Homo sapiens: one gene and its partner. The protein of the gene in region 2 purifies or fractionates together with the protein of the main gene of each other region. This does not show direct contact. Each region holds a gene or a part of one and is shown on either strand. Other genes may lie near its edges. The genes, in order: ATP11C and SLC43A3.

Evidence for each region.
Region 1: the proteins of SLC43A3 (region 2) and ATP11C purify together in Homo sapiens (affinity purification with mass spectrometry; 2 studies listed by BioGRID and IntAct, with this or other methods). This does not show direct contact.

Annotation. Positions count from the first base shown.
Region 1 is NC_000023.11:139,723,903-139,735,640, forward strand, and holds the end of ATP11C (phospholipid-transporting ATPase IG), read right to left. Parts: intron 8,624-11,738; coding exon of another isoform or gene 8,534-8,623; exon of another isoform or gene 8,533-8,533; intron 7,854-8,532; coding exon 7,752-7,853; 3' UTR 7,749-7,751; intron 5,061-7,748; coding exon of another isoform or gene 4,998-5,060; 3' UTR 2,446-4,997; downstream 1-2,445. UniProt on the Homo sapiens protein: Catalytic component of a P4-ATPase flippase complex which catalyzes the hydrolysis of ATP coupled to the transport of aminophospholipids, phosphatidylserines (PS) and phosphatidylethanolamines (PE), from the outer to the inner leaflet of the plasma membrane.
Region 2 is NC_000011.10:57,424,122-57,436,702, forward strand, and holds the start of SLC43A3 (equilibrative nucleobase transporter 1), read right to left. Parts: upstream 3,001-12,581; 5' UTR 2,941-3,000; exon of another isoform or gene 2,765-2,940; intron 2,532-2,764; 5' UTR 2,467-2,531; intron 2,269-2,466; exon of another isoform or gene 2,232-2,268; 5' UTR 2,052-2,231; coding exon 1,868-2,051; intron 1,589-1,867; coding exon of another isoform or gene 1,550-1,588; coding exon 1,420-1,549; intron 1-1,419. UniProt on the Homo sapiens protein: Sodium-independent purine-selective nucleobase transporter which mediates the equilibrative transport of extracellular purine nucleobases such as adenine, guanine and hypoxanthine.

The DNA of each region.
Region 1 (11,738 bases), on a different chromosome or scaffold from region 2:
TGGGTCATACCTGAGTTCAGTCCTGGGAGACTAGCAAGATAATTAACTTATCTGAGCCTCAGTTGATATGTTAAATATCTGGAGTTTAATGATCTCTACATAGGACTATTGTGAAAATTAAATAAGGTACATACAAAAGCAGTCCATAAAGTGCTATGCAGATGTTAGATAATTAGTCTTCTGTATCAGCTTAATTTAATGTTTTCCCATTAATATTTTTAAGCTTCATTGTTTTAGCTTTCTTAAAATTGTGAAACCATTTCAAAGTTGTAAAAATAGTGCAAAGAATTTTCATACACCCCCCACTTGGATTCCCCAAAATATATCATAATCACAGCATAATTTCAAATTATCAGAAAACATAGATATATTGCCTATACAATGTTATATAGCCTAGATACTGTAGTCAAACTTCACTAATTATCCCACTAATGTTCAATTTCTGGTCCAAGATCATATGCCACGGTTAGTTTTCACAATAAAGTTTTAGTTGTTTTGTTTATCTGGGAGAGTTACTCAGTCTTGCTCTTTCATGATCTTTGTAATTTTGAAGCCAGTTATTGTGCAGAATATCCTTCAATTTTGGTTTGTCTGTTTTCTCAAGTTTAATACTAACATTTTGATGATTTGTTTATTCATGCCATCAGGGGTGATATAAAAATAGAAACACAGTGTCCTAGTTAAGTTCACAGACTCTAATCGGAATACCTGGATTCAAACTCTGGCTCCACCAGACAGTGTAACCTTGAGTATTTTTGGGACTCAGTATCCTCATCTGTCAGATGAAGAAACATCAGTACCTATCTCCTAGGGTTACTGGAATTACTAAAGGAATGAATACGTGTAAAGTGGTTAGAACAGTTCCTGGCACATATTAAGTGCTGTGTAAGTGTTAGCTAATGTGAGGAATTGGGTTTTGGCAACTGCTGAAGAGACCAAAGTAGCAGCAGGTATTTTAGTTATGTACATCCTTTTTGCTCAATCCTGCCCAAAGAGCCAAGGCCAAAGACTCACTGCCAGCAGGAATTCTGGCCCACCATGAGTGCACTGTTTCTCTCAGCCACAGGCCTCAGCACTTACTCCCAAAGCCCATGAGATGAGGACTTGCTTGATCCACGCTGCAACATTTCTTTAGCACAATAGGTCTACGCAATAGGAACTGAGCCCATGTTTCCTCGCCCATCAGTTGTTGGTAAAATTGTGTCAAATTAATTTTTTAAAAGTTGCAAAATAATTAAGCCCACTTTTTTCCCCTGATAACTATTCTCAGAACACAGGCCTTCAGACTTCATTAGTATGCATCCAGCACTTTGCCCATGGACACATTCACTGAATAACCATAGTGATAACCTCAGCCCTTAACCTCTGCCTGTGCTTCTTGTTGAAGGGGCCAGATCACTCGGACCCTCACAATACTCACTGTATTGGCCAACTGTGGGCAGACTAAGCAGTGAGGCGAAGAGGGAGCGCCCCATAAGGCTGGATGGGGGAAGGGAAGGAAGCTTGAACTGACTGATTCCAATAAGCCAAAATAACGTAAGACATCTATGAAAATGTGGTAAATGACAACTGTTCATTAAAAAATTAAGCAATAACAAACCCTTAACATAAAAGTAACAATGCCTACATATGAATAGCAAATGACATTTTACAAAGCAATTTTCATTCTTTACCTTATTTGCCCTGCCACACACCATCTTACAGGTGAGAAAGAAAAAGGATTCAGAGAGAAATGTGGCAAAGCTGATACTTTAATTCAGGTTTTCGCATATTTTCCACTTAATGAAAAAGAAGAAAATACACACTAAATATAGATCAAAGACCAACAGGATTAAAAGACTACCAAAACATAGAGACTGAAATGTAGAAATGCAATGAAACCAGTTTCCGTAGAGCAACTCTGGTTTCTTGGCAGTCAAGGACAGTGAGGTTTTTCAAGAAAAGGGACTTTCACAAGGTCTTGGGTGCAGGCTGAGCAATGTAAGAAGAGGTGGGGGAAGTGGTGTGCACACACACACACACCTTTGGACCAAGTTTCAAGCTACTGTAAAATCCCTTCATGTTTGACTGCTTAAGAATCAAATGAGTTCAATGGGTTGAAGACACAGACCACAAAGACCAAACATATGCTACCTTCAATGCATGGCTGGCATCAAGCACACTGCCAAGCACAAAGTAGACTTTCAATATGTATTTACTGATTTGGCTGGACTTTTATCTATGCAGTAACAAGGTACAGTGTTATTAAAAACTCCTACAAATATCTTACCCTCCCCAAATTAGGTATTGCCATAAAATACCAGTTGAACTCATGTAGAAATGGTCAAACTTCTGTCAATTGTGCAGGTCAAGAAGAAATTAGAAACTTAGTTCCCATCAACAAATTGCTTCCATATTATTTTAATGTCAAACTGAGACCTTTCCCAAAAAAAAGAGGCTGATATATCAATCATATCATACCAAAGTTTATTGATTACATCAAACAAAAATTTCTGTAATGGAAAAGGCAAGTTGCAGTCATAAAAGATGGCATTCACATTCATTTTAGAAAGCAACAACGTAGATGTAAAAAACTGCTTAAGTGAAAAATGTAATATTGCAGTCCCATTTTGCAAGCTGAAAAATGATTTTGTCAACACGCATAAAATCTGCACATTTATATACTGCATGTTATTAAAAAATTCCATCACTAAATTATTACGAATTTTGCAAAGTTAGGCTTACATTTATACTGTTGCTGGTGTATGTGTAAGTAGATATGGAATGAATGTTTTCAGTTTAGTAGGTAACATCCTCAAACAATGGACAGCGGTTGTGAAAATTACAAAGACATTTTGATAGCTCAAAATTATTCAAATTATAGGTAGATGATCTTATTATATTTTTTTCCCTTTCTCTGTCACAAATAGGGTGATTACATTGAGTGCTAGGAATACTGCATGGTCTATTTCAAGTTATTCGATCTGCTAACCCCACACTGGCCAGTTTTTAGCTCTTCAGTAAAATATCTTTTAAAAAGGAAAGCCAGGTCCCTCTCAAGGATCTAGGCCATGATATCATGTATCATTGCCATTCTGAATTTGAGCTGCAGTATCACAATGTAATGTGTAGCTGAGACATAACTCTAAATCCCCCTTACTCCTTGTCTTTCTTTCTTTCTGGCTGGAAGGAATTTTACATGCAACCAGTTATTTTTCTACTAGATTATTCTGTTAACTCTCCAATGGTACTGCATTAAACAAGCCTCTCTACTGTGGCTCTCTTGTCTGTATTCACAGTTCCCATAGATTTTATGTAAAACAGCAATCATAATACAGCAACAACAACCATAAGAACAAGAAAACAAACACAAAATATCAAAAGCTTTCCTGGGTTAGACTTTTTTAGCTCTTTGGAATAGGCAAAGAATATAGAGACTTTTGTTTTCAGCAGCTTACCTCAAATACGGGCTACCAGAACACAGCACACTTAGGTAAGTTGTGAATGACATGTAACAAAATGCTCAAAAATAATACTGATATATGAGAGCAAATGAAATAATGAAAAAGGGTCTATAATGATGGAATGGCTTCTGATAACTGAAATTATGTTCTTTTCTAGAATTTAGAAAAAAATCATACCTAAACATTAACACAAAATATATGTGGAAGAATCAAATGTGCCATATGGACTATATAAATATAATACAGATTAACTCCAATACTTTTCCAAATCAAGGTACAATATAAACATTAATAATAGTACAGGCATGCCAGAAAGACAAAAAAAAAACAAAAAAACTAGCAGTCAAATAAATATGGTCATTTATATCCAAAAAAGTATGTGTTTAACATTGAATGAAGACATTTCACATTTATGTTTCAAGTGAACTAATTAGAAGGCTAAACCTTCCTTCTAGTTCAGTTAGTCAAGGACTTTACTAAGGTCAGTTACATGGTTTAGAGTTAGACCATTTCCCTGTCCAAGTTAAGAGACAACATTCATCTTCACAGAGTCATGGCTCTACAAGCTGAACCACCGTTTTGGGGTGGCTCCTTCCCCCTTTCCAAATTGGCCAAGTTTAAGAAAAAGCACTGCATATATGCATAAATGCAATCTCTTTCAAATAAAAACCGTCAAAAGTTTAAAATAAGCTATATTTCTTCCTCTTCACATAAAATTATAAAAGGCTGATATTCAGAATGACCTTTATTTTTATATAACTATGGTTTAAACCACCTTACTGCAGATCCCAGTAAAATCAACACTGGAAAAATCTGTTTATTTTCTAACTACTTTGAGGGGCTACTAAGTGATTGGAAATGTTTTATACTTTATTTTCAAGTCTAGTAGGCTTACACCCATAAGTGGGGTTTAATTCAGAAGAATAAAAAATAAACAATTTTTTTCTATTCCCACAAAAATACCCGTAAGTTAACACTTTCCACATAAGCGTTCAAGGTATTTTTTTGGCAAGAATATTCTACCAAGACATTAGTAGCACATGGGTAAACAGAAGGGATTAACTATTCTGTCTGATGCATTGATACTATTTAGTTATTCTGTATTTTCAAGTATTCCTTATGTACTTGGGAAAAAAAATTAAGATGATCATTTAGGAGGAATGAGAAATGTGATCCAAATAGTCTATTTCTTCTGCCAGGCAAAAAAAGTAGTATTAGCAAAATCTATTCATTCTCATTGCATAACTTCTACTTCATACTATTGTATTTAAATCCATTCACAAAGTTCATGGGTTAAAAGAGCACCCATTTGAGTTATATTACTCTAACTAAAGCCAGAATTCTAAGTATTCTTGCTTTCAACTTTCATATAATTCTTAACTTACAGCTTTGGCCATAAAGGCTACTTACAATAATGGTAAATGCTTAAGAGAATCATTTGGTATTTTAATGAACATTTATTGTGAACTCTAGACATGAGAGTGGTTTAGTGTGTTGCGTATCAAGTATCCTGAGATGATAACTTTTTGTAGTTGTTTCTTCATGCTTTCTTTTTTAGCTGTAACCACTGTCAGTATGCTTGTAGGACAATAACATAGGCAGTTCAAGATTCGGATTCTGAAAAATGTAAAATATACAGATTTAAAAGGCTTATTTTAATAATGTGAAACCATCTGTTAAGCATTTTCAGAAATAAGTAGTAAATTTTGTTATGAGAGTAAAGCAACTGTCTTAACAAAGTGCCAAGTTTTATTCACATGCAGGGGAAAAAAAGAGTGACACTATAACCAGATTTTAATCCTTTCTTCATTTGTCAGCTGAATAGATTCAGGCTTGCTTTTTGCTTTTGGATTGTTCCAGGGTTCTCCTAATACTTTCTACCTCTGGGATTATTTACCATAGCAGAGGTTTAGCTTGCTGTGATCCCTTCTCCTCTAGGCTGGGAGGTCCTTGAAAACAGGAACATTTTATTTACCTTCTATCTCCAGCAGCTAGTAATAGTGTCTGGCACACAGCAGATACTCAGGAAATGTTTGATGAATGATTAGATTGCTGTTTTTCTTGATGTGTTAATTTTGACAGAGGAAGTCTGAAGATATATTCAGCTTTGGAAGATTATTGTGAAAATATTCTTCCTTTTTACTGAAAGAAGCATATTTCCCCCCTACAATATGGAAGTTAATTTTCCTTTTGGTAGATCATGTATCTATGAGTCGATTGATTCTTCTGTTTTTTCTTATGCTTCATCTTTTTGGAAGAGAAACCACGGATATTTCCCTATCAAATCTGTAGATTCTTCTCTGTCCTCTAAACATCATCAAATGCTATGATCAGGATGGTGCATGACAGACAAACTGATCATTAAGTGTAAGTCAAGTATGTTAAGAAATGGAAGTCATATGTCAAAACAGGGAGCCTGATTCTCCACTCTAAAACTCAATCTTTTTGAACCTGAGTAGTGGAAGGTCTTAAGTAGTATGCTATTTTCTTCCCATTCTGGGACACCTCCTTTGCCATGGCTGGACTAGAAGCTCATTAGAATACCTTCCATTTCTATTTATGTTCCACATTCTCCAGAACCACTAGTAGGTTTTCAGGTAGCTCTGCAGGGTCATGGTGACTCTAACCAAAATAAGGTTGCCATTCATACTGAGAATGTAACTCACATTGAGGAGTTAGGTAGTTTCCTTACCAACCAAGGAACAAACTAGATGCCTAAACTAGCTGCTAATTATTGTCTTTGGAGGAGAAATAATGCCACATGAAAATCTATTCCTGGAAGAAATAACTACATTAAAAATAAGACAATTGTTTTTAAAAAATACTTCCTCAGTTCTATGTTAGACATTGTAGGAGATAAGGCCCTGGAGAGGCCAAAAGCAACAGCAGTGTCTTCTATCCAGCCCAGTCCCCCAAACCACAGACCAAGCTAAAGAGAGCAATCCAGGGGGATACAAAATTAGCCAGAAACAATATAGCTAAAATGCATCACACAGCTTAGAACGAGGCAATCTGGGACAAAGGGGTCAAAGACCTTGAAGGTTACTTGTGAAGCAGATTCATTACTAAGGGAAAACATACTCAGGTAAGTTGTTCAAAAATGGGTAAAAAGATGCTAACTGTGGCAAAATGAGTCTGCTTCTAAAATAACAGTGCAGATGTAGACTGCGATGAACTCCAGGAAGACAGAAGAACCAATGGAGTCAATCCATTAATTTAACTTGTATTCTTTGCTAGAGGGTGGCAGAGTTGACAGCTGTTGAAAAAAATGGGCCTATAAGGTGGACTCGCAATTATTAGCTTCAAAGTGAACTAACCCACAATTGTATTCATGATGATCATTAATTTTTATGTGTGCATGAAAGATGGCCCTGCTTTAAGCTGTGTAGAGTTGTTTCCAAGCTGACAAGCTTGGAAGCCTTGTTCATTAATTACTCTAAATTCCTATGGATGGATAAAAGACCTCCAGAGGTCTGAGTTGTTAAAGGCCCCCACTGAAGGAAATACAGACTATACATAAAGGAGTCATTCTGAGTTCAAGGGGCCCTCCCACGGCGTATCAATTCCTCCCAAATATTTTTGGGGGTAAATGAAACATTATAAAGTGAATTTAATCATTTTTGGAAACATTAATTATAAAGCATTTTATATCATTAGGCAAGCATCCCCCTGAATGGCTATGAAATATTTTACCTCTGAAAGTTGAAACATTTAGCTTGAATAAAACTTGACATTAAAAAAGTTATGATTAGACTGGTTCATTGATATATATTTGGAGATCAGACATTTACAAGGACATAAGTGTATACAGTACCTGCAAACACACAGACACAGCACATGAAGGTACAAACACATTTAGTTATTTTCACATAATTCCCAAGAGAACATGCAATGCTAAATTGGCTTGATATTATACAGATGCAATTTTGGAATATTTACTTTTAGTTTTCCAAATGATCTTTATAAATCAAAGTTATATTTCCTGATCAATATTAACAAACATTTTCACATGGTGGCCTTGCCATGACAACTTGCCCCTTACAAATTAAATATGCTGTATCAACATTTGGCTCTGAAAAATGTTTAACATTTTATTTGGGGGGCTTATCATATTTTAATGTTTAATATTTTAAATGCATATTTCCCCATATTCCAAGTAATGCATCTTTATATTTTTGCAAAGAATATTGTAAAGTTCACCACACCAACAGCAGAGAAAATTTAGAGAGTGATATTTTCATTTTTTCTTTATAATGCTGTTAATCCGATTTTTTAAAGCCAGCCCATTTGTTTAACACTAGGTACCTGTTACAATACATTAGATTCGTCTGAGAATGTTCGTAAAAGAAGAGGTCTGACTGAAGGTCTGGCGGATAATGAGTCAGATGCCCTTCTACAGCTCAGATTTCTCTGTAATAGTGAGGCAAAGATACTTAAAGCATTTGAAAATTGGTTAACCTACCTGGTGATTATATATTTAAAAAAAGGTAAAAGAAAAAAATCATTTCCTATAGACTACTCCTCTGGCCAAAAGTACAAATGATTACACTATATAGTAAATGTATAACATTCAAATGAATACATTCAAAGGCCTAAGAAAGTCTCCAACTCGAATTGTTTTTGTGGTAGAAGTAAACAGACAACAGTAGTATGTAGTAAACTTGGGTTTTTGGAATGGCACTGGTAAGTAATATGGTAAGATGAGTCAATATGGTTTGATTAGTAAACCTTACCATCCTTTTGGTGAACACCTCTGAGAGTTGTGCCGGTGCCGTATTATCAAACAAAGAGAAATTTGTGCAAAACATTCCTGTCCTGGTGAACAGACTAGCTCTAACACGCCATGGCCACTGCATACCGTGGATCAATGAAGACTACAGACCCGTAGTCCAAGCTTTTAAAAATTACTTCCTCTCCAGTGTGACAATTTGGAAGGTGAACACATGATTAAAAGAAAATGACAAAATACTCTAAGCATCAATAGAAGATATAAAATGAGTCATGAGAAGTAATTTTTCATAAAGAATTAGAAAATGGTGTCAGGCAAATGAGAATGCAAGCAAGTTGGTACATTAAGAAAGGAAATCACCTTATTCACTCCAAGAGAAACTGTGATTGCTGGAAGTTTGAGAAAGCATGAAGATAGCAGATGTTCCTGAGGAAGGGAGGCGTTTCGTTACCTTGTTCACAATTGCACAAAAGGTGGAAAATTGCAGTAGAAAAAAGAGAAATGCAGAAACCAAAAAAAAAAAAAAAGTAAATAATCTCTCAAATGTAAGACATTTAAAAAGAAAACTTGAGAATTCGAAGCCGAAATGATATGTTAGTTTTGAAGACATTATTTTCTGAAGTAAAAGCAGAGTCAGAGATAGGAATAGTCTATTATTACGTGCCAACTACTATTTCTCTACATATCAATTTGAAATTATTTTGTTAATGGGAAAATTGACTATTTTAAATAAAATAGCTTTAAAATATGCTTCTCGTTAAAATAAGACTTATCTCTAATCATTAATTCACTATCCTACATTTGTTCAAAATCCATTGGTCAAAGAGTTATGTCCAGGGTCCATTGCCAATCACCAATCTATCTTGAAGTAATTATCTCCCCTATGCAACTGTACAGATACACTATGAAGGGACTGACTGCTCTTAAGCAGTTGCAGGATAAAAACTTAATCAAAAATAACAATGGGAAAACATTTGGTGATACCACATTTCAGTCCCATTTGCCTCTGACCAATGCTTAACTTCCTTTCTTACAACCTAATTTGATTGGTTTCCCTGTTTTTCCTACAGAGTCCTCTTTAGAAAGATAGGCTAAATTTTACCTGGGTAAGGTATTATTTTTTTTCCCCTTAAAACACCCAGAAAAGTGAAAATGGATAAAGTTTAACTGGCAAACCTAAGGTTATTTTTTTCCTTCTGATTCTGTGCCTGAAATTATAAGGTAATTTACAGACTCAGTTTTGGCATTGCCCAAGCAAAACAGAAGATGAGTGGTCAACAATGTGGATGACTTGAACAACTCTGCTAATAAAGATTACCCATATTGTCTACTTAGTGACCTAAAATGGGCTTAGAAAAAGAAACCAGCTAAAGTAACATTTGTTTCCAGAAGATTCTAATAAACAATTAAACTTTCAAAGGTAAATAATTTATTCATGTTTTGACAACTACATTTTTTCTTGTTTTTACCTTAAATGAAGAAAGTTGGTGGAATGAAGAAAGTTGATAGACATATTGATAGAATGCAAATTACCAATTGATAAAGCTAGAGAATATTTAGATTCTGAGAAAAAGATTTTAATTGTTTCTATCTTCTATTTTATGGGCAAAAACCCTGCGACAAGATCAGCATGATACCAAGTTCCCCACCCCCGTGTTTAATGCACAAACCTATCTATTCAAGACTGCAACTGTAAGCACGTTTTGGTGTGCTCAAACACTTGTATCCAACCATCGGAGATAAAAGTATTTCTATGAAGCAGAAATATTAGGAGTTAATAGATTAGGTGTTAAAACTACTTTATAAAGGAAATGAAAGTACAGAAAGCAGGAGAAAGCATGGAAAGAGTAACTAAAGCAATAAAAAAATTGATATAGCTAGCAACCGGCAGTGGGGTGGGGTAAACAGGAGATAATGAGCTAAAACAGAATGAAATTTCCACATTCCTTTGCAGTCATCTAGAGAGCTTTGACACCAGCTCAATTAGCAGTATGTCAAAGAGGCCAATGGATAAAGGCCCATCTCAACAGCCACGACATTAGGATTAAACTTTATTTTTGTCTAATCCAGCTAACAGGGCTATTGCCCTGTGAACCCATGGTTGTATATGACACTGTAAGAATCATAATAGTAATCATCATTATTATAATGATTAACTATATTCTCCAAAATTTCCAAAATGCTTTCTCTGGGACTTTGGCTCAGACAGTTGACATTCTTCCCTTCCCTGTCTACCACTCTGAAAGAGTTCTCTACATAATGGAATATTTCTTCCTGTTTGTGCTGACATCCCATGCTAAGCACGGCCATGTTGCTGGGTGCATTCCCATTAAATTATAGTCTTCCTTTGTCAAGCTTCAGCGAAGTTAAGCCTCCTTTTTGATTGTGGTGACTTACATGAGAAAACTTCACACAGGATATGTGGAAATTTCTCCATTGGAAATGTGAAATGGTATTTGCTACTTGGCCAGAAACTCCAGATATATTTCATTGATTTACAGACAGCCAATGACTGTGCTTAGGGGGGACACAACTTTTTGAAATACAAAAATCCTATACTTGACCTTTCCTTGAGGTGTTATCCTGCTGTTTCACTGTTCAGTGCTCAATGGTAGTTTCATCATATACCCTCAACAGCATTGCTATGCAGCTTTGTCACTTCATAAAGCTAAAGAAAAGCTCTAGGATCCTTAATAACGGAACTTTGGGGAAAAAAATTAACCTCATTGCTAAAAATACAGCTGATGGATACATGGCTTAACTACAACCCTTGAGTTAAACAACTGAGAGAACCTACATTTGAAGATACTGGAATTCTTTCTAATACTAGCATTATGACAGAACTCAGTTGCAGTGGAGGCTGCCATACTAGCGATTTTACTGGAGGTTTCAGGAGGTAGTGACTTGAAATAGCTCAATTGTGTTAAAACAAGCCACATCACTGATTCTGCTATTCTGTTTAATACCTGCTTACAGAAGTATTCCATATGAATGCTCCTTATAACCAGAGTGAGAGCTGCTTGTGAGCTAGGGCCACATCTGATTCATCCCTGAATTACCAACACCTAGTACAGTAGCTAACTCATAGTGGGCCCTCAGGCAAGGTATGCTGAATTGAACAGAATTCAGCATAAGGTTGCTCTTATAATTGTTAAATATAAATAGCTTAGCTTCTTTCTCAAATGCCATAGAGACATTTTCACTACACACTGCTAAGTCCCCTTCTCAAAGCAGCTGCCAAGACCCACATAAGAACAGCACTGGCAGCTGACCTGCCACATTTCTGGCTGTGTACATAAAGTGTCCACGATACTTATTGGTTGAAGTCAGGGATTCTTCTACTCTAGGTAGAGACACACATTTGACCACATCGGGGGATCTATCAGGATATGGGGCAGACCCAGTATCTTTTGCCTCTCTTTAAAATGAGGCCAATGTCTTAGCAAGGAATACAGAACAAAGTAGGAAATCACACAGAGTGTCAGACTGTTGGTCACTGAGCATAAAGACTAAAATATTTGGGGGAAAATAACATACTCTTTCTCCCTTATCTTAGAAGTTGGCCT
Region 2 (12,581 bases):
GACTTGACCGCACCCTCAGCCTGGGATGCAACGGGCACTGATGCCTCTGAGCCCCAGGCTCAAAACCAGGCGCAAGAAGCCGCGATGAGATTGAGATGTGGTCCTGACCTCATGGACAGTGCATTTTGCTCATTCTGAGGCCCAAGGCTAGCATGGAAAGTCTTGGACAATGAGCTCAGCTGACGATGTGATTGGCTTGGGACTTAGCCAGGACAGAATGGGCAAAGCGAAGGTCCTCCCACCTGGAAGCCCCAACAGCCCAACCCCTTGGAGAAAGGGGTTAGTGCCTGGTCTGCAAATCAAGGCCTTGAGTTCTAACTCCTCCTCACTCTGTGACCTTGGGCAAGGCGCTGTCCTTCTCTGGGCCTCAGGAGCCTTTTCTATAAAAAGAAATGATCGGACTGATCTAGCTCAGAGTGCTATGATTTCAGGACTACAGTCCCAAGGTTATCAGGCTCCCTTAGCATTTGGGGGTCTTGTAAGGCATGGAGTAAAAAAAAAAAAGCAATATCCTAAGGCTGGAGAAGAGGGAGGGGACAAAGGAAGGGGAGGAAAGGGGAGGTAGCAGGGAGCCAAGGACCAAGAAGGACTGAGGTACAGTCATTCTGCATCCAAAGGCTTAAATTGTAAGGGACTGGCTTTACTCTGGCTGTTTCCGGAAAGGCAGGCCCAGCCAGCCCTCCCGTCTCTCTCTCTGACAGCCAATCTCACATGTGCCTCCCTGGGAGCACCTGCTCTGAGCTGTATCAGCCCCCAGCAGGCCGCTGATTACCACTGAGCCTGGCCACAGAGCACGAGATTAGGATGCAGCAACACACTGTGTGTGAGATCACGTCCCGAACCTTCTGACTCATCTGCACAGGAAACCCCCCCAGTCTCCCCTCCAGTCAGAAGGGACCTGAAATTCCACCAGTGGCAATACCAAAGAAACTTCCTATTAGCTAAGCCCCTAGGGAGTGATTGGCTGTTGGGGCGGGGAGGGGGGGCGGTGAGGAGGATGAGGATGAAGCCTGGGCAACCTGGATGTGAGGCTGTGCAGGGGATGAGGACAAGGATCCTTGGGGTGAAGGAAGAGAAGAGCAATTTTAGGTTTTGCTAATTTTGTAACCCTGGCTCCAAGCCAGCCCTTACAGGAAGTCACCCTGGCCTCCGGCTCAATTCAGCACGTGATAGGGAAGCCACATTTATGCAGAGCAGGGAACGAGGTAAGGAAATGGAAGTGGGGCTGTGGTGAAGTGGGCAAGTCTAGAGAGAGTCCCGCTGCCTGGGGCTGTTCCTAACAGCTGCTGGGAGCGAGCTGCAGGTGTGGTGCCTGGCAGGGTGGCCGGGCTGTCTGACTCTGGATTTCACTCCAAGCTAGGCTGCTGCCTGAAGGATTCCTCTTACCCACCTTTGCCTGGGCTGGCCTTTGGGACTTACATGGCTATGAGGCGTGCCACGGTGGTCTTGAACCGGTCAAAGATGTAGCCAGTGGGGAATGTCATGAAGTTGTTCATGAAGGACCCCAGGGTGAAGATGAGTGAGAACCTCTCATCCTGGGCTTTGCAGTCTGGAGTAGAAAAAAGGTCTCCCATGCATCCCAGCCTTCCTGCCAAATGAGCACACAGGCTGGGCTCCCCTCCACCTCAGACAGCTTGTCGGTCGCAAACTTGTCCCTTAAGCTGAGTTGAAATGTGGCTGCCCCTAATTACCCCTCAGGAGCTGGTGCCTCCCTCCCAGGCACTTCCCAGATCAAGTGGGGTGAGAGCTGCTGACCCTTCCTCTCATCATAGAAAGAGGGGTGGGCAGGGGGCAGAGTCCTTCCTGCTCCTTGCCACCACGTGGGAGCCAGACTTAACTTCCTTAGAAAAGTCATCCCTGCCCTTACCAGCCTGCCCTGTGGCATTGCCAATCGGCCCAGCATCTGGTCCACACAGATCCTTAAAGTAATCTTCATTCTTGAAGACAAACACTAGTGAAGGCCAGCCAAAGAGGACGCCAGCAAAGCCCAGGCATTCCAGCAGCCCAGTCAGCAGTGTGGCCACGTGCAGGGGCAGGCCCTGGCCCGCCATGAGCAGAAGTGGAGTGGATCTTCAAATCCCACTTTGTCCTCCTGGACGGATCACAGGCGCCGTAAGCCTGGCGTTTGAGCACTTGGAAAATTCCTCTGGCAAGCCAAGCCCTTCCTTTCCCGTAGCTCTCTGGTTGTTTCAGGCCTGGGCAAAAACCATCAGCGGGTGATTCTCTGGATCCTGTAGAATAAAGATAGAGGCTGCTGGAAGAGGAGGCCTGCGGGAAAGGGAAAGGTAGACTAGAGTTATTTGTGAGGTGCATTAAGAGGCAGGATGATCATGGCCGCTGGCAGCAAATGTGGGGAATAAATACTCCAATACATCATCTTAGGCACTGCATTTGAGTAACCACGTGGCAAGTAGAGAGGCAGGTCTTGATGGCCACCTGGAGTCACAGGTGAGATAAACGACTTACCCAATAGCTCCCCGGGAGCAGGTGGAGAAGCGGAGCTCCTGCGCTCGAATTCTGAATACCGTCCCCTAAAATAATGACAGCAACTCAACCAGGTGCAGAGGCAGGGAGATTTCATACAGAAGACACAAACTCCCGCTGCCAAGTTGGTGTTATCTTCAGTTTACTGACAATGAAACAAAAGCTCCCATGGATTTCAGGAACTTGCCCAAGGTCACAGGGCTAGTTTAGTCACGACGCAGGCCATTCTACTGCCAGAAATACCCCCAACTCCCATGACCCTCGCCTAGGACTCGCAAACCTGGTCCCCGCCGCCCTTCCTCGCATCAACTTCTACCAGGAAAGCCTCCGGGGGCCGCTCCCCGCCAGCCTCCGCACCCCGCTCCAGCCTGCGGCCTGCCCTCCCCGCAGAGGAGCCCGAGGGGCCAGGCCGCGCTCGGCGCCCCATGGCGCCCGAAAGGGGACCCTTCGCCCTACCCGCCTGCTCCGCGCCGGGGCTCTCCGCGCCCTTTCCGCACGGGCCAGGTTCGCATTCGCGCCTCTCGCAGCCCCTCCCAGTCCCCTGCTCGCCTCCGCCCCCTCCTGCCCGCCCGGAAGGGGCTGGGGCAGACCTCCCACTCTCCATCACTTCCTTCTTCTTTTCCCTTGCTCACAGCCTCCCGCGCCCTTTTTACCTCTCCCTCTTGAAACTTCTCCCTCTAGAACCCCCTAGAACCCCAGCGGTGTCTTTCCCTCCCTCCTCGCTGCCTTTCAGCCTCCCAGCCCCCTTGCCTCTGCCTCCCCTAACCAAGTTAGTTGAATGCTGTTACTCGCTCAGGCCCACCTAGGGAAAATGTCACACCCAGCACCCAGAGGACACACAGACAGCACATGAGGGCATAGGGACACACACACTCTATTTGTGCATTTTGCCTTGACCGCTGGGTTGGCAGGGAACATATTTTTCCTATTTGCTCACCAGCTTAACCGTCTCTCCCAGTTTCACACTCCCAGAGCTGCCAAAAAAATCCCAACCACAGAATCAGGAAGCCAAGAACCAGGACTGAGGGCTTTTCAGAAACCATCCCCTGGAGGACTGCCCCATATTTTCACTCCCAAAAACCCCTTAGATGACTCCCTGCCTCACCCCCGCCCCCCAGGTTCTGAAAGAGCCTTCCCGCCAGACTGCATTGATTAACCATTCATTGCCCCATTTTTTATTAATCAAAGACATATATAATTGCTCATCGGAGCTTGTGATCAGCGTGAGGCCTTACTAAGCAGCTGCCTTACTATCCTTCCAGCCCAGAGCACGTGAGCTGACGTCTTCTTTGGCCTGTGTGGCCGTTTCCTTGCCAAAAGCTCAGTTTGGGGAGAGCTTCTTGCGTATTAGATGCAGTCTGCAGACTCCCAACCCCAGCTACCTGGATCCCCTGAGGGCCCAGGAACTCCAGCTATTCCAAGCCCACTCCTCTTTTTTTTAAGAGGAAGAAATAGAGGTTACGATAGGGGACAGCCAGAACTGAGGATTTTCCAGCTCACCACCAAAGCACAAAAGATAAAAGTCTGCAACCACCCTAGTGACTTGACTGAATGGAGGAAGGGTGGCTGGGGTCCTGTACCCCAAGCTACTCACTAGTTATACAACCTGAGGCAAGCTCTTTGGCTGCCCCACCTGTAAGACGAGGACAATAGTACCTTAATTATAGGAATTGTCATAAAAGAAGTATAAGATGGGTGTATGAGGTCCCTGCATGGCGCAGGTGCTATAGGCAGATTGTAGGGTAGTAGATTTTCTAGTCTGCAGTTATGTAGACAGAGCCAGAGAAGCAGCTCTGGGGAGGAATTTCAAAGGAACTTGCCCACGGTCATTCTACAAAGCTGCAGTACCTTCCCAACTCTGAAACGTATGCTCTCATCACCCCGTCTTAACAAACATTTGGACATTAGAGAAAACAAGTCTTTTCTTAAAATAACATTATTTATGGGAGAAAATCCACAAAAATATAGCATCCCAGGACAAACAGGGCTTAAGATGCAAGATTTTCTATTTTACTGCAAGACACAAAGACTCTGAAATTAATGCATGCCCTATCTTCTGCTCTGGCATACATTTTAGTCTCCTGGGGGGATCAGTAAGTGTGGAAGTAGCAAGGGAGAAACAGAAAAAAGTCAAAGTAAAGAGACAGATTTTAGAATGTTAATCTGCAGGAGCCTGCCAGAAAGATCTAGCTCATGGGCTATCTGTACATCCAGGACTGAAGCACGGGACACGGGGCAGGTCGTCCAGGGTTCTGTCCACCTTATCTTGTTACCTCTCTTGACTCTTAGAGCCTCCACTCCACATCTCCCATCAATGTCTGCAGAAGACGTGGCCTCCACTAACACAAGTCTTACTGAACTGATGGGACAGGAAATTAGAATATCCTCTGAACCATTCCCATGTTCTTTGGTTCGAATTCCAGCAGCTAGAAAAGGCAGATGCTATTCTGATCACTCTCCTGCGTGGCTCCAATGAGGATTAATGAGTAACATCAGAGAGAGAAGTGATTATAATAAGGTCTGACGGTGCACCCGATGTCTTCATCCTTTTCTCTTCGCCTCCTTCCTCATCATCTCACACCTTTTTTTTTTTAATTGACTGATTGGTTCAACAAATACATGTGGTACCTCAGGCTCTGTGCCAAGTGCCGGGATTCGTAGAGAAGAGATTCAGTGCCTGCTCTCAAGGGGCTCATTCTCTTGTGGGAGAGACAGACAAAGAAACCCAAGATTTCTGGAGTGTGGGAATGGTCTTCCAGGCAGATGCTAGCACAGCACATTGAAAGGCACGGAACCTCAACAAAACAATAACATTTAGGAACCAGCTAGAGCACAGGGTGGTGAAGAAAGTGGAAAGATTTGAGGCCAGCGTCGCCATCTAAGTGAGGGCATTAAGAATTCAGCCCACATCAATCAATCATGTCCTATTGATTTCACCCCTTAATATCTCTCCTATCTATCCGTGGCCACTGCTCTATGCAGACACTCATCATCTCTCACAGAGGCATCATCTGCTTCCAAGCCATCGCCATTCTCCTGCAAGAGTTTATTTCCATGGTTCCCACTGGATGGCTTCACTTAACTGCTCAAAACCCTTCTGAGGTCCAGTCAACTGGCTGGTAAGGACCAGTCCAGGGTCTGGGGATGCCAGCCATGAGACATTGCTTTGAGGGGAAGAGGGAGCATAGAACTGGATCTCCTGCATCCTACTGCCCAAGTACCAATGCTGGAGGTGGTTTTCCTTCCCATCATCAGCAAGTCTGGATATCCAGGATCCACCCTATGGATGTTTTTATGGACAGAGTGGGAAGATGGATATGTTTAGGTTAGGGAAAGAGGGTTTGCCAAAGAGGGCAGTATAAGTGAGCTGCACTCCATCATTCCCCTGGCACAAACAATGGCTAGTATCCTCTAGTCCTCAAGAGCACCACCTTCCAATGCAGTCCCTGCCTGTCCACAGACCTCTCTCCTCAAACTTCCTCTGAACAACCTCAGCGAGGGCAATTGCCACTCTCTGGGCAGAGTCCAGATATTCTCTCCTACCCTCTGACATCACTTTCTAAATTTGTATATGTAGATAAACTCTGAGCCATTCACATAAAGGGCTTTGATTTCGGATACGCCAAACACATAAACAAACAAACATAAGCTTTCCTTTCACAATGGGCTCATGTAAATTAAAATGTTTGGTTTTCCACCTACGGTCTTGAAAGGGGTTTCTACAGCCTGTTTTGGAAGTCAGAAAGCAAAAGGTAAATGCAAACATCATTTCACCTGCAGAGAAAATTCTAATCCTCTTGAGGCAGTGCCAAAAATAATACAAGCACACTGCTATCGAGCCAATTACTGGTATCTCTGAGCTTCCGTCTCCTCATCTATAAAATTGGAATCGAGCTGTATGGATTAAAGATAATGTATGAAAACTGCCCAATTAGTACACTATTAATAAATAGCAGCTACTGTTGTTAACAAATATTATTGACTTACTGGAAAACAAAGAGGAAATAAAGTCACATTTAGGGAGAATTTCAAAGTGTTCCTAACCTAAAAAAGAAATAAATTAGGGGGAAAACCACTAAGTAATGGGTGAGCTCAGTTTACCTTGCTTAAGAAGTCCCACCCTAGAGAACTGATCTCTAGATGACACCCAAATGCACTCAGTACAACCCCCCAAGACTGTCTGGGCTTAAGGCAGGGGCTTGGATTGTCCTGTAAGCTGTGGGAAGTCTGTTCATGAGCCACAGTAGACAGGAAGGGGATGGAGTCTTAGAGCTGGCTCTTCAGGGTATCTCCTAGTGTGTTCAAAGCAGTTCTCAGGAGGGTGGGGAACTACTACATAGCCAAGTAAATATGAGGCCTCCTTGCTCTGGGGAGACCTTTCTCTTTAACAGAGGTGAATCTGAAAGGATACCCAAAGAGGCACTGGAGGGTGGGGGCCACTCTGGCCCCTCAGAGCAGCCAGCTCAGCTTCAGTGGATGCTAGAGGCAGCAGAGGATCAGCCTGGATCAGCCTCCCTTTCACCATGCAGAAAACAGAGCTCCCCCACCAGACCAGATACTGGAAGCACTGGGCCAGGCCTAAGAGAAAGCAGAGCCCCAAGCCCCACCACACCAGGGCTTATGAGGCTACTGCTACCCACCCTCCCAAGCCCCAGCTCCACTTCTATGTTCATCAAGCAACTGTTTACTGGTAACTGCACTTCCCGATAGACTTTGCTAGAAAGGAATGCCTCAGTGCACTGACAATATCTAAACCTGCAACTCTAAGGACTAGGCTGGGGAACACTGTGTCAACATGGAGGCACGTCCTACCCCTGAGAAGAAAAATAAGGAATATCAATAATACCTGCTGGGCACTGAGCACTGACTATGTATCTGATTCGAAGCGCTTTTTGCTTAATCTGTCACTGAATCTCACGATAGGTGTTGTTATTAGCATCTATTATCTGGGCCAACTGAGGCCTAGAGGGACGAAGCAACTCCCCCAACATCACCAGGTAGCAGTGTCAGGACTGGGATAGAAACCTGATGCTCTGACTGAAACTAATGCTTTTTTTTTTTTTTTTTTTTTTTTTTTTGAGACAGCATCTCACTCTGTCACCAAGGCTGGAGTGAAATGGTGTGATCTCAGTTCACTGCAGCCTCCACTTCCCAGGTTCAAGTGATTCTCCTGCCTCAGCCTCCCGAGTAGCTGGGATTACAGGCGTGCACCACCATGCCCAGCTAATTTTTTTGCATTTTTTGTAGAGATGGGGTTTCGCCATGTTGGCCAGACTGGTCTCAAACTCCTGGGCTCAAGTGTTCTGCCTGCCTTGGCCCCACAAAGTGCTAGGATTACAGGCGTGAGCCACCATGCCCAGCCAGCTGATGCTCTTAATCTGTGCCCTACCCAGCCTTCCTGGGAGGCTTCCCAAGAGCTACACAGAGCATGAGTTCTGGAATCGGGTTGATGGGGGTACCAGTTATTACTAATAGGAATGAAGATGGGTAATTCTTTCAGACAGCACCCTTGATTAAAACAAGAGAGTAGTGCTGCCTCTCTGTGATTCTGTGTCTCCCTGCCCTGCTCACACAGACACCACACCCACCCACACGCATGATCATGAAAAGAGGAAATGGATCCAGGAGAAGGAGACGACTCCTGAGTGAAAACAACGGGGTTTTTCACATTGAGAGCTTTGCCCAACACCCCAAAGATGAAAAGAGCAGGAAACTGCTGGGGCCGATTGAACACTGGACTTTTGTTGTGGAAAAAGGCAAAGGGAAGCCGGAAGAGACTGGAACAGTTTCCATGGTGCTGGAGGATGGGGAAGTGGGTAGGGATTAGCTGGAGGGAGAAGGAGAAGCTGGGGTGGAGGGGAACCTCCACTTGCCAGGAGAGCACATGTAGGATGGGAACCCCAGATGATACTCAAGGCATGGCATTAGACCAGAAGCAAGTCTGTGGTGAAATTAGGGAAGGCTCCACTGCGGACTGTAGACAGAGCACTGGACAAGGAAGTGGGAGACCCAGGGTCCAGTCCTGGCTCTGGAGCCCCCTGGGTGGGCTGCCCCGGGCACCTTTCTCTCTTGGGGCCTCCATTCCTACCTCTGTGAAGCGAGTGCTGAACCTCTCTTAGCCCTGACTTGCTGAAATGCTGGGACTCTGTACAGAGGCTGACATTAAGCAGGGATCTGTCGTGGGGTGCTGCAATGTTCCTCCAGATGCTGCACGGGAGAGGGCAGAAAAGGCCTATATGGTGAGTCCGCCCTGGGAGCCTCTGCTTGGAAGCTGAAGTGGCCTGAGAGTGACTCAGAAACCACGGAAGTTCCCGGGGCTGATGGGTTCTTATAGATTGTACATGCAGCTCTCCTCGTGGGCTGCAAAACCGCAAGATGGGCTGTGACCACTCTCAAGGAAAGAGCCCTATCTGCAAAAAGCATTCTGCCCTCCAGGTCTTAAAGCAAACACAGACTCAATCCTTATTCCTTTTAAGACAAAATTGCCTCAGGGGCATCAGGGAGGCAGCAGGCCTCAAATGTGTGCCTTTCTAGAATTCTCAATGAAAGCACCCTTTTGGGTATTAATAATGACAACAGTAATGACAGTCATTTACTGAGTGCTGCTTTTGGGACAGGCATTGGGCTAAGAGCTATATGTAATATATATTATTATTTGATGCCCACAGCCACCCCATAAGGAGGCGGAGGTACTATCATTATGCCAACTTTAAAGATGAAGAAACTGAGGCCTCAAGAGATGAAGTAACTTGGCCAAGTCACTCAGCCAGTAAATGGGAAGAGATAGACTTCCCAGTATCCAGAGCCCATGTTTTCACCATTATGCTGAAGTACCTCTTTTCCTGTGCCAATGTGATCTGCCTCCAGGAATCCTGTCTTGATGTTCCCTTCCCCATACAGAAGTCCTCTCTGTGTCCTCTTCAGCCTGATAGTATATCTTTTCATACCATTCTTTGGACATCTCTGTTATACTACTCCAATGGTGTTCCCTCCCCTACCCCTCCCTGGGAGCTTAGTTGTTGTGATTAAGTATAGGGGAAATGACCCACACTAAACAAACTCATAAGAGACTGATTGATAAACCTGAAATGCAATTTATTAATTAACACTGAGAAATGAAACCACCCAGCAGATGGGAATCCTAAGGCTGACTGGTCAGCACAATCTCTTTCAGGAAGGACAGGCTTTTGGGAAAGGAAATCAATACCAGAAGGTTCTTTGTTGAGTACAAAGTCAGAGGGAAGGGAGTTGATGGATTGACACATAGGTGAAGCTTGACATACCTCTATAAAGCCTCCATCCTGCCAAGGATCAGAATATCCAAGGCAGGGAGCCATCTGGGTGTCCTCTCCTTTGGACAGTGCTGGATTTTTCTGGATCCTATGAAGATCTTACCTTTCTGGCTGCATTTATCATGATTGTGGAAGGCTTTTTGTTTCCTTGTTTGCTTAGATTAATTTCTGCGTATTTAATAGAACTGAAAGGCAATTTCCCATTGAGACCCACTGAAGAGGAATAATCAATACATACTAGTTGTGTTGCCCTTTGCAGAGAATTCACTTCTGTGTTGTCACTGTATCCTCATGCTTCCTTATAATGGAGGGACAGAGATGGTAAAAACATGGACTTGGAAGCCAGACCGTCTGGGTTTGAATCCTGGCTCTGTTACTTATAAGCTCTGCAACCTCGGGCAGATTACCTAAGTCAGTTTCCCCTTCTCTGAATTGGGGATAATAATAGCACCCACCTCAACATCTGTCAAGAGGATTCAATGAGGGAATACACATAAAGTGCTCAGAACAGTGTCTGCCATCTGGTAAGCAGTCAATACTTGTTAGCGATGATTAATAATTCATTTCATAGATGAAAAAACTGAAGCCTAGAGAGATAAAAAGTCAACTAAGATCATACAGCCAGTAAGTGGTGAAGATATCATTGAAAATCAAACTGGCATCCTTTAAGCACTAAAGTCTTTCCACAGACTAGTTTCTTACCCATTCGCTTTCATAACAAGCTGAAGGAGAGCTTGTTTAAAAATCAGGTATATCCACCCACCGGAATGGGTAAAATTTAAAAGAATGAAAATATCAAGGTGGAGCTTGGACGCAGAACAACTGGAGGGAGTAAGCAGTAAGAACCACTTTGGAAAAGTGTCTGGCAGTTTCGAAATAAGTTAAACAAACACTTAATGAATCAGCCAAGTTCAACCAGGGATGTGGAACCACTCTCTCTGTGGATTGCTACAGGGATTTGGCCTTACTCAATTGTAGGAGGTAGTTAAGCAATCTTGTAAGGCTATTATCTTTGCATGTCATGTTGCAGTTGAATTCCACAGGTCAGGCAACTGGGAAAGGAAGATGGATATAAAGTGGGCAAGACAGAGCAAACTGAGCCCCATAAGTATGAACTGGAACCCCATGAGGATGAACTGAAGCCTTTAAATCCACATCAGCTTTTGTTGTCTCTGTCGTTGTTAATGTATTTTGCAGAAGCCCGGGTTCATTGCATGGAGCTAACCACATACACACCTGCCCCAACAGTAGGCAACGCCAAAGGAGAAGCCAGCTCCATGCCAACCAGGTGTACCAGCAGTTCAGTCACAACATGTGTGAGCCAGAAACCGACTCCTGCTTCCCTTCCACCCTCCAGATTCCCTGAAGAGACACCCTCATGTTCCGCTCTAACCAGAAATACACAAAAAAGGGAATTCAACATAACCAAGTCAGCACATTACAAAGCCAACACACCTACCTTATGATCAGGTAATTCCACCCAAGATATTTACATAAGCGAAATGAGTGCATACGCTCACCAGAAGTAGTGTACAAGAATATCCATAGCAACTTTATTCATAACAGCCAGAACCTGGTAACAGCCCAAATGCCCACCGATAGGAATACGGATAAGCAAATTGTCCCGTAGTCACACGACGGAATACTGCATCACAACAAAAAGAACCAACCTTTCATACACACAGTGTAGATTAATTTCGCAGATGTGATATTGAGCAAAATAAACCAGATGCCAAAAAGTACACAATGTATATATATTTTTTCTTTTTCCTTTTTTTTTTTGAGACAGAGTCTTACTCTGTCGCCCAGGCTGGAGTGCAATGGTGCGATCTCGGCTCACTGCAAGCTCTGCCTCCCGGGTTCACACCATTCTCTTGCCTCAGCCTCCCAAGTAACTGGGACTACAAGAGCCCGCCACCATGCCTGGCTAATTTTTTTTTCTTTCTTTTTTTGTATTTTTAGTAGAGACAGGGTTTCACCGTGTTAGCCAGGATGGTCTCCATCTCCTGACCTCGTGATCCGCCCGCCTTGGCCTCCCAAAGTGCTGGGATTACAGGCTTGAGCCACCGCGCCCGGCCATATTTTTTCTTTTTTGAGGCAGAATCTCACTCTGTCACCTAGGCTGCAGTGCAGTGGTGCAATCACGGCTCACTTCAGCCTCAACCTCCCAGGCTCAAGAGATTCTCCTCTCTCAGCGTCTCAAATAGCTAAGACTACAGGCACGCACCACCATGACCAGCTAATTTATTTTTTTTGTAGAGTCGGGGGTCTCACTATGTTGTCCAGAGTAGTCTCCAACTCCTGGGCTCAAGTGATACTCCCGTCTCGGCCTCCCAAAGTGCTGAGATTACAGGCATGAGTCATCATGCCTGACAATGTATATCTGTGTGAAGCTCAAGAATGGGCAAAACTAATTGATAGAAAAGTTAGAATAGTGGTTAATTACCACCGGAGCAGGAGAGGTGTGGGTCTGTTACCTCTGCTGAGGAGGGGTATGATGGAGTCTGAGTTCCTGGAATGTGTCTTGATATAGGTGGTAGTTATATAGCTGTATAGATGTGTAAAATTTCACTGGGCTGTACGCTTAAGGTCTGTGCCTGTAACAGTATGTATGACATACTTTAATTTTTTTTTTTTTTTTTTTGAGACAGAGTCTCCCTCTGTTGCCCAGGCTGGAGTGCAGTGGCACAATCTTGGCTTACTGCAACCTCTGCCTCCCAGGTTCAAGCAATTCTTCTGACTCAGCCTTCCGAATAGCTGGGACTACAGGTGTCTGCCACCATGCCTGGCTAATTTTTGTATTGT